2 linked regions of the Homo sapiens genome follow. The protein of the gene in region 1 interacts with the protein of each later gene in a biochemical or structural test. Each region holds a gene or a part of one and is shown on either strand. Other genes may lie near its edges. The genes, in order: MAFK and BACH1.

Evidence for each region.
Region 2: the proteins of MAFK (region 1) and BACH1 form a complex in vitro, tested with the Homo sapiens proteins (one study listed by BioGRID).

Annotation. Positions count from the first base shown.
Region 1 is NC_000007.14:1,540,551-1,543,716, reverse strand, and holds the end of MAFK (transcription factor MafK), read right to left. Parts: 3' UTR 674-3,166; downstream 1-673. UniProt on the Homo sapiens protein: Since they lack a putative transactivation domain, the small Mafs behave as transcriptional repressors when they dimerize among themselves.
Region 2 is NC_000021.9:29,343,786-29,346,836, reverse strand, and holds the end of BACH1 (transcription regulator protein BACH1), read right to left. Parts: 3' UTR 689-3,051; downstream 1-688. UniProt on the Homo sapiens protein: Transcriptional regulator that acts as a repressor or activator, depending on the context. Binds to NF-E2 DNA binding sites. Plays important roles in coordinating transcription activation and repression by MAFK.

The sequences.
Region 1 (3,166 bases):
GTCGAGGCTGCAGTGAACTGTGATCACGCCCCTGCACTCCAGCTTGGGTGACAAAGCAAGATACTGTCTCAAAAAACTCGAGTTGGGATTTCACCCTGCGTGGTCCAGCACTGAACAGCGTTCACACCTCGGTCAGCTCAGCCCCAAAAACGGGGAAGGCCGGGCGGGGTGGGGACGGCATGCGGGCAGGCCCGTGGCTTTTCGGAGGAGTCCACGGGCTTCCGGCCACTGTGCAGGGGCGCTTTGCTCTCTGCTCCCAGACAGACCCTGTCTTGCTCACAGCTTCCTGCAGGCTCCTCTGAGAGTCCAGCAAAGCTGGGCGAGATGTCTCCCAGGGAAGGGGAACACTGACAGCCGTGCTGCTCTCTGCTCCTTCCACTGGAAGGGAGAGGCTGCATGGACAGGGGGCTCCGGGTGGGGCAGATGGGGACACTCAGGACTGCGGCCTGACCCTCAGAGACTGAGCCCAGGACGTGGTCACCTGACCAGCACCTCCCCCGTGGCTGTCCCAGCCTCACGGTCACGGCCCAGCAGTCCGGGAAAGCCACTTACACGTAGTGCCCGGATCCTGACCCCGGTGAGGGACAGGCAGGGTCCCCTGGGATTGGGGGGGGGGTGTGGTTCTTGGCCCAAGAAAGCCCCAGCTGAAAGCACCAGCTACGCAACGAAAGGGTCTGAAACCAGAAAATTCTTTATTGCAAAGGTACAAAAGCAGTCACAGCAGCAGGACGCACGGCAATAAATTAGGTGGTGGCCGCAGGGACGGGGCAGGGCGGCGGCGGCCAGACACGGGCCCACATGTGATCTGTTTTCAATAATTTATATCATGATAAAAAGCAGCACAAAAAATAAATAATGAAATGGAACTGCCAAGTAGCACAGAAGCCAGGGTGAGGCGGTGTGGCGGCGTGGCGGCATAGGGGGCCGGGGTCCCCACGCCCTGGAAACGCAAAGACCTGGATCTCTTTGGGAAGCCGGAGGCACGGAGACAGAAAACAAACCCACGTGACAAAGAGTCCCTCGTCTTTTTCTTAAATAAAAAAATCCATATATTAAATCATGACAATGAAATTTCAACAATCTGAAAAGAAAAGCAGAACACACCGTGCTTCCCCGGCCCAGCTCTGGGCGGTGACAGCGGCTCCGTCCACCCTGGGGACCAGGGAGTCCCTTCTCCAGCAAAGCACTGCAGGCCAAGGGCAGGTAGAAGCCCACGGCCCACAAGACGTGGACACCAAGAACCCCAAGACGGGACAGAACCGGCCACCCGCTGCGGCCTGTCCTGCGGGGCCCAGCTGCCTGGTACAGTCCGTGGGGAGATGAAGGGGGACGGCGGGCAGCCCGGGCCTCCGCTTTGCTCCCAACTCCCACCTGTGCCCGTGCCCCCGGCTCTGCTCTGATAGATTTACAGTATCAAACTGGAAAAGAAAGATTGTTACGAAAAATCTGTAGATAAACTGTGAATATAATTTTATATCTCTATATATTTTCTGTTTCTCTCTTTAAATATCCCCCTGGTCCTTATGACATCCAATATGGATTACCTACCACGGCCACGGGGGCAACGGCTGTTTGGGAACACGCAGGCCTTTGCTCTGTAGGGACCCAGTGGTCCTGGCGGGCCTGCAGCTTCCCACTCAACTTCTAACAGTAGACACAGAACCAAGTCGCAGCCCCGGGGCTGTCTGTCCTCTGCCCTCCCAGCGTGGCTGGCACCCGCCTGGGCTCTGTAGCTGGTGGGGGCTGTTACTGGGTGGGCAGGGGCAGCCGAGAAGGAGCCAGGGCCCCAGGCACCACCTTGCAGGTCTTATGTGGCGGCCCCCGGCCGGCGGCTCACATTCCGCCAGCTCCCCCAGGCAGGGGCTCCGCAACCCCCGCGGCTCTCGCTGCAGAGACCCCAGTCACAGGAGGGACCCTCAAGGCGGCTCTCCAGGAAAAGGAAGCCCAAGGTGGAGTGCCAAGCCCACTGGTGCCTCAGTGCTCTTGGAAGGAGGAGCAGGCAAAGGCTCCGGGTGAGGACTGAGTGCTGAGGCCAGCCACACCTGCAGCCCGTGGCTGTGCTCCTGGGGGTGTGCGCGCAGGAGCCACGTCCACGAAGCTCTCCTGGACTGGTGCCTGCTGCCTCCCCACCCGCCGCGCCCTCTGGAGTGCCAGGCTCACTCCTGAGCTCTTCTACAAGCCAGCTGCATCCTGGTCCTGCCCCTCAAGGCTTTCCACCTGCTCTCGCACACGGCTCCCGCCTCCTCCCACCACTCCACGCAACGTCCTCCTCCTTCCACCTCCACATCCATGTCCACCAACATCCCCCAGGCTGCACCCCCTCTCCCTAGACTGCAGCAGCCCTTCCCCTCGCCAGGCCCCCAAAAGACCTCCTCGTTCCCCCTGCACTGACCACAGTTGGTGAGAAGTAGCTCCAGGACACACAGCCTGAGTCCTGCTCACCGTCAAATGATGGGGCGCTCCTGCCTGTGTCCGCTGAGATCCGGGACGGCCTGTGGGGTCGGTGTCTGGGGGGCCGGATCCCGTGGGCAGGGGCTTCTGCGCTGTGCTGCACGACCTCCTCGGGTCACCAGAGCACAGGGGAGACCTCACGACGTGTGAGCCACTCTCTCTGCCATGTGTGCCCACAGGCCCTCCCCCAGTGAACACCAGCAAGCTGCACCCCCTCAGCCCTGCTGCTTTGATGGCAGGCGTGCGTGCACACACACAGACACCACCCCACGCAGGCGACCTCCCACACCGTGCCCACTCACGCAGGCCCCTGCTAAGGCAGACGCGGATCACGGGCACTGCAACGGGACAGCTGGAAGGACGGAGCTGCCGACACACCATCCATGCTCCTCCCCGGGGACTGCGGAGTCGGTCAGGGCAGTGAGGGGCTCCCGCACCGGCTGGGAGGCCGTGGCAGGACAGGTGTCGAAGGCTGCTTACAGCAGGAGTGGAAAACAAGCCCCATGCTAGACCTGACCACAGGGGCCTGACTCCTGGGGCCGTGTCTTCCGGCAGCCCCCACAGAGGACGCGGAACTTCCCGAGGGCCTTTCCATTATATGTCCCGACTCCCACGGGTGCAAGATACCAATTCCCACACACAGACACATCCTGCGGGGAGCAGGTGGCGGGCGTGAGTGTGTCTGTGGACCGGCGTGCAGCTCTGGGCCCACGGG
Region 2 (3,051 bases), on another chromosome or scaffold:
CAAAGCTTGGTGAAATCCCACGTTTCTCACCCTGTCTCCTTTGAACTCTTGCAGCCACCACACTATCTCACACAACTGAGCACTTTCTTACAAGTCATCTTGATTCCATCGTTGGTCTAGTCAGGGTTTCTCAATGTCAGCCAGATCGATACCCTGGGTGGGTAATTGTTGTGAGGGCTGTCCTGGCCTCTGCCCCTAGAAGCCATATCCTATACCCTGCCCCCGAGATTTGTGTCTCTGGGAACTGCCAAGTGTCCCCTAGGCAAGCAAAATCATCCCCAGCTGAGAATCACTATGATTAGACCAGAAGACTTTGCCCTGGATGGCCAATACCGCTGAGCAGCTGCCCAAAGCTTGGTCAGAAGGGCCTGGTTGGAAATTGAATAGGATACAAAGAGCTGACTCGGCAGATAAGTTTTTAAAACTTAATGACTGATAGAGATAATACCCCTTAAGAGTCCCTATACTTCTCTATCCAAACTAACATTAAGTAAAATCAGAAGCAAAGCTAAAATCTGTGCTTCCTAAAACACCTGAATGCTGGAATTTTTTTTTTTTTGAGGCATGATTATCATCAACTAAGGAAAGATTCTCTCCTACAAATTCAGATATACTAATTACCGATCAAAAGACTAAACTGAGTAAATCCACATGAAGTGAGAAAATGAAAATGGAATGTACAATTCTATTCAATTAGAAGCAATTTTAGAGAATTTTATTTAACTGTCAACTTATCACCAACATCTAACATTTTTTAGTTCAGGTACATTTGGGTAAGAACATTAGGGAGAAATGTAAATTAAATACTATGAAACTATGCTTTTAATGAAACATGGTCTCAGTAAAATATGGACACAAAAGTTTAGTGGTTTTATTGCATTGTTAGAAAATTATATTATGAAAGATATAAAAAAATCAATGTTTTTCTGCTTCTTTTATAATCAGTATGCCATCTTCTACCATTATGGCTTTAATTTTCATTCTACCCAACAAGTTTCAAAGAATAGTTTATTACATGCCTTAATAAAACATTTAAAATATTTACAGATTCAAAATAGATGTTTTATAACTGAAAAAAGTTCACCTGAGAATTCACCGTAACATTGCCATTTTTTTCCCAAGTTGTTAATGTGACTGAGTGTCCACATGCAACCTGTATCGTCTACTGCATCTAACATACTTATTTCCTTATTTAAAATTAGTTAAGCAGTAAGCTATAGCAAACTGTTAAAAAAAATTACAGATGGAGAACCAAGACTGTATCCACATTTGTTTTGAATATGACAATTTAACGAATTATTTGCTATAGTTCCAGAATTTGAATAAGAAAAAAAATAAGGTAATGTTATTTTACTGAATTCAACATAACAGCTTTTAAAAAATCATCAAACATTGAGAAGGCCAGTTCATAAAATAGTGAACAATGATCATGTGAATATGCAATATACAAACTGAAAACATTTCAAAATTCTGCATGAAGGAAAAGGCATACACTGTATACTCATAATCCTGTCATTTGTCTTCGGCAGCCTCAAAAAAAATATTGCCTTGAAACATTTTCTTAGAAAAAACTTCTTTAGAAGTTAATGTTAAAATAGGCATAAATGTGTAATGCTATGCAATATACAGAAAACTTTCCCACTTATGGCCAAAAGACAAACGTAAAATCTTTTTTATCTGTCCATCTGCATTACAACTTGAAAATCATGTAGATATGAGGTAGTGTAGTTACTTGTATTACATGCTGGCTATTTAAAGTAATGCTAAATTTTAAGAAATTACACTTGGCCAATAATTCTGTGTCATTAATAGAAACCCTTAATGCTAAACTGTTTATAGGTAGAGAGAAATTTAAACCAAGTGCTTTACAAATTATATTTAAGCTCTGGAGACAACTACATTTTATCATAAAATAGTAGGTAATCTTTCAAAGCAAGTACAGTAGCAATTAAAGCAAAAGATTATTTGACATTTGCACATACACAAACTGATACAACCAATAGTTGGGTGTACACTGAGGTAGGAAATCAAGGGTTCCATTGGCTTAAGATTTTACATTTTGTAAACCAGAAGTTCTTATATTATTTTATATCGTGAAGCTGAAATTTAAAATTACAAGTATCAAAGAAATACCTATATGGAGAGATATATATGTATACATACACATACACACACACACACACACACACACACACACACACAAATTCTTTTGCAGTATGGGATGCACTATCAGAATTATTCTCCCTGACAAATTCTTGAGTGTACTTATAAAAGCTACTAGAAAATAAACAAGTCCAACTAATTTTCTCTTACAAATAAGTCAGTGACAGAGAGAACATACAAACCACTGAAAATATACTAGCAATATCCTCCCCCTACACCCTGATCAAAAAGGGTAACATTTGACAAATTACTCCAAGACATGAAGACTGGTCCCCATATACTCTCAAGGGCAAGGCCAACTTGCTTCAGACTTGTTCATACACAGTGGGTGGTGGCTGCCCACATTAGCTAGACAAGCCCTGCACTAGGCTCAGGATGCAGTCTATAGAAGTGTCTCTTTCAGCCCTCTGATTTTGGTGAAATCAACACTATAAACTACTCCTCTGTACCATTAAAACTGGGTTCTGCCAATGTTTCTGTGAATGTGAATATATGCATTTTTTTTAATTGCTGAGAAGATCCATAGCTTTCATTTGACTCTCAAACACATCTAACCCCAGCATGGCTAAAAGCCACCGCAAAATGTTATGCGATAGGTGCTCAGTTATCTATTTTGTAACAGGACTGAACAAACACTAAGACTGATCTTTAAATGTCCAAGTTAAAATGATTTGTGTGTCTTTATACCACACCAAATTTGGAGAAGAGAGCAAGGATTCAACCTGCTTTTCAAATGCAAACCCACAATAGAAAAAGATTGAGTTTCATCCTATTTCACAAACCTGCAGAGTTGCTGCAGATACATTTTTTATCTGTTACAATCATTTTTACAAGTGAATAATACGACTTCAAAAACAGGGTGAAAAAAATGAACTGCACTCCTGGTAA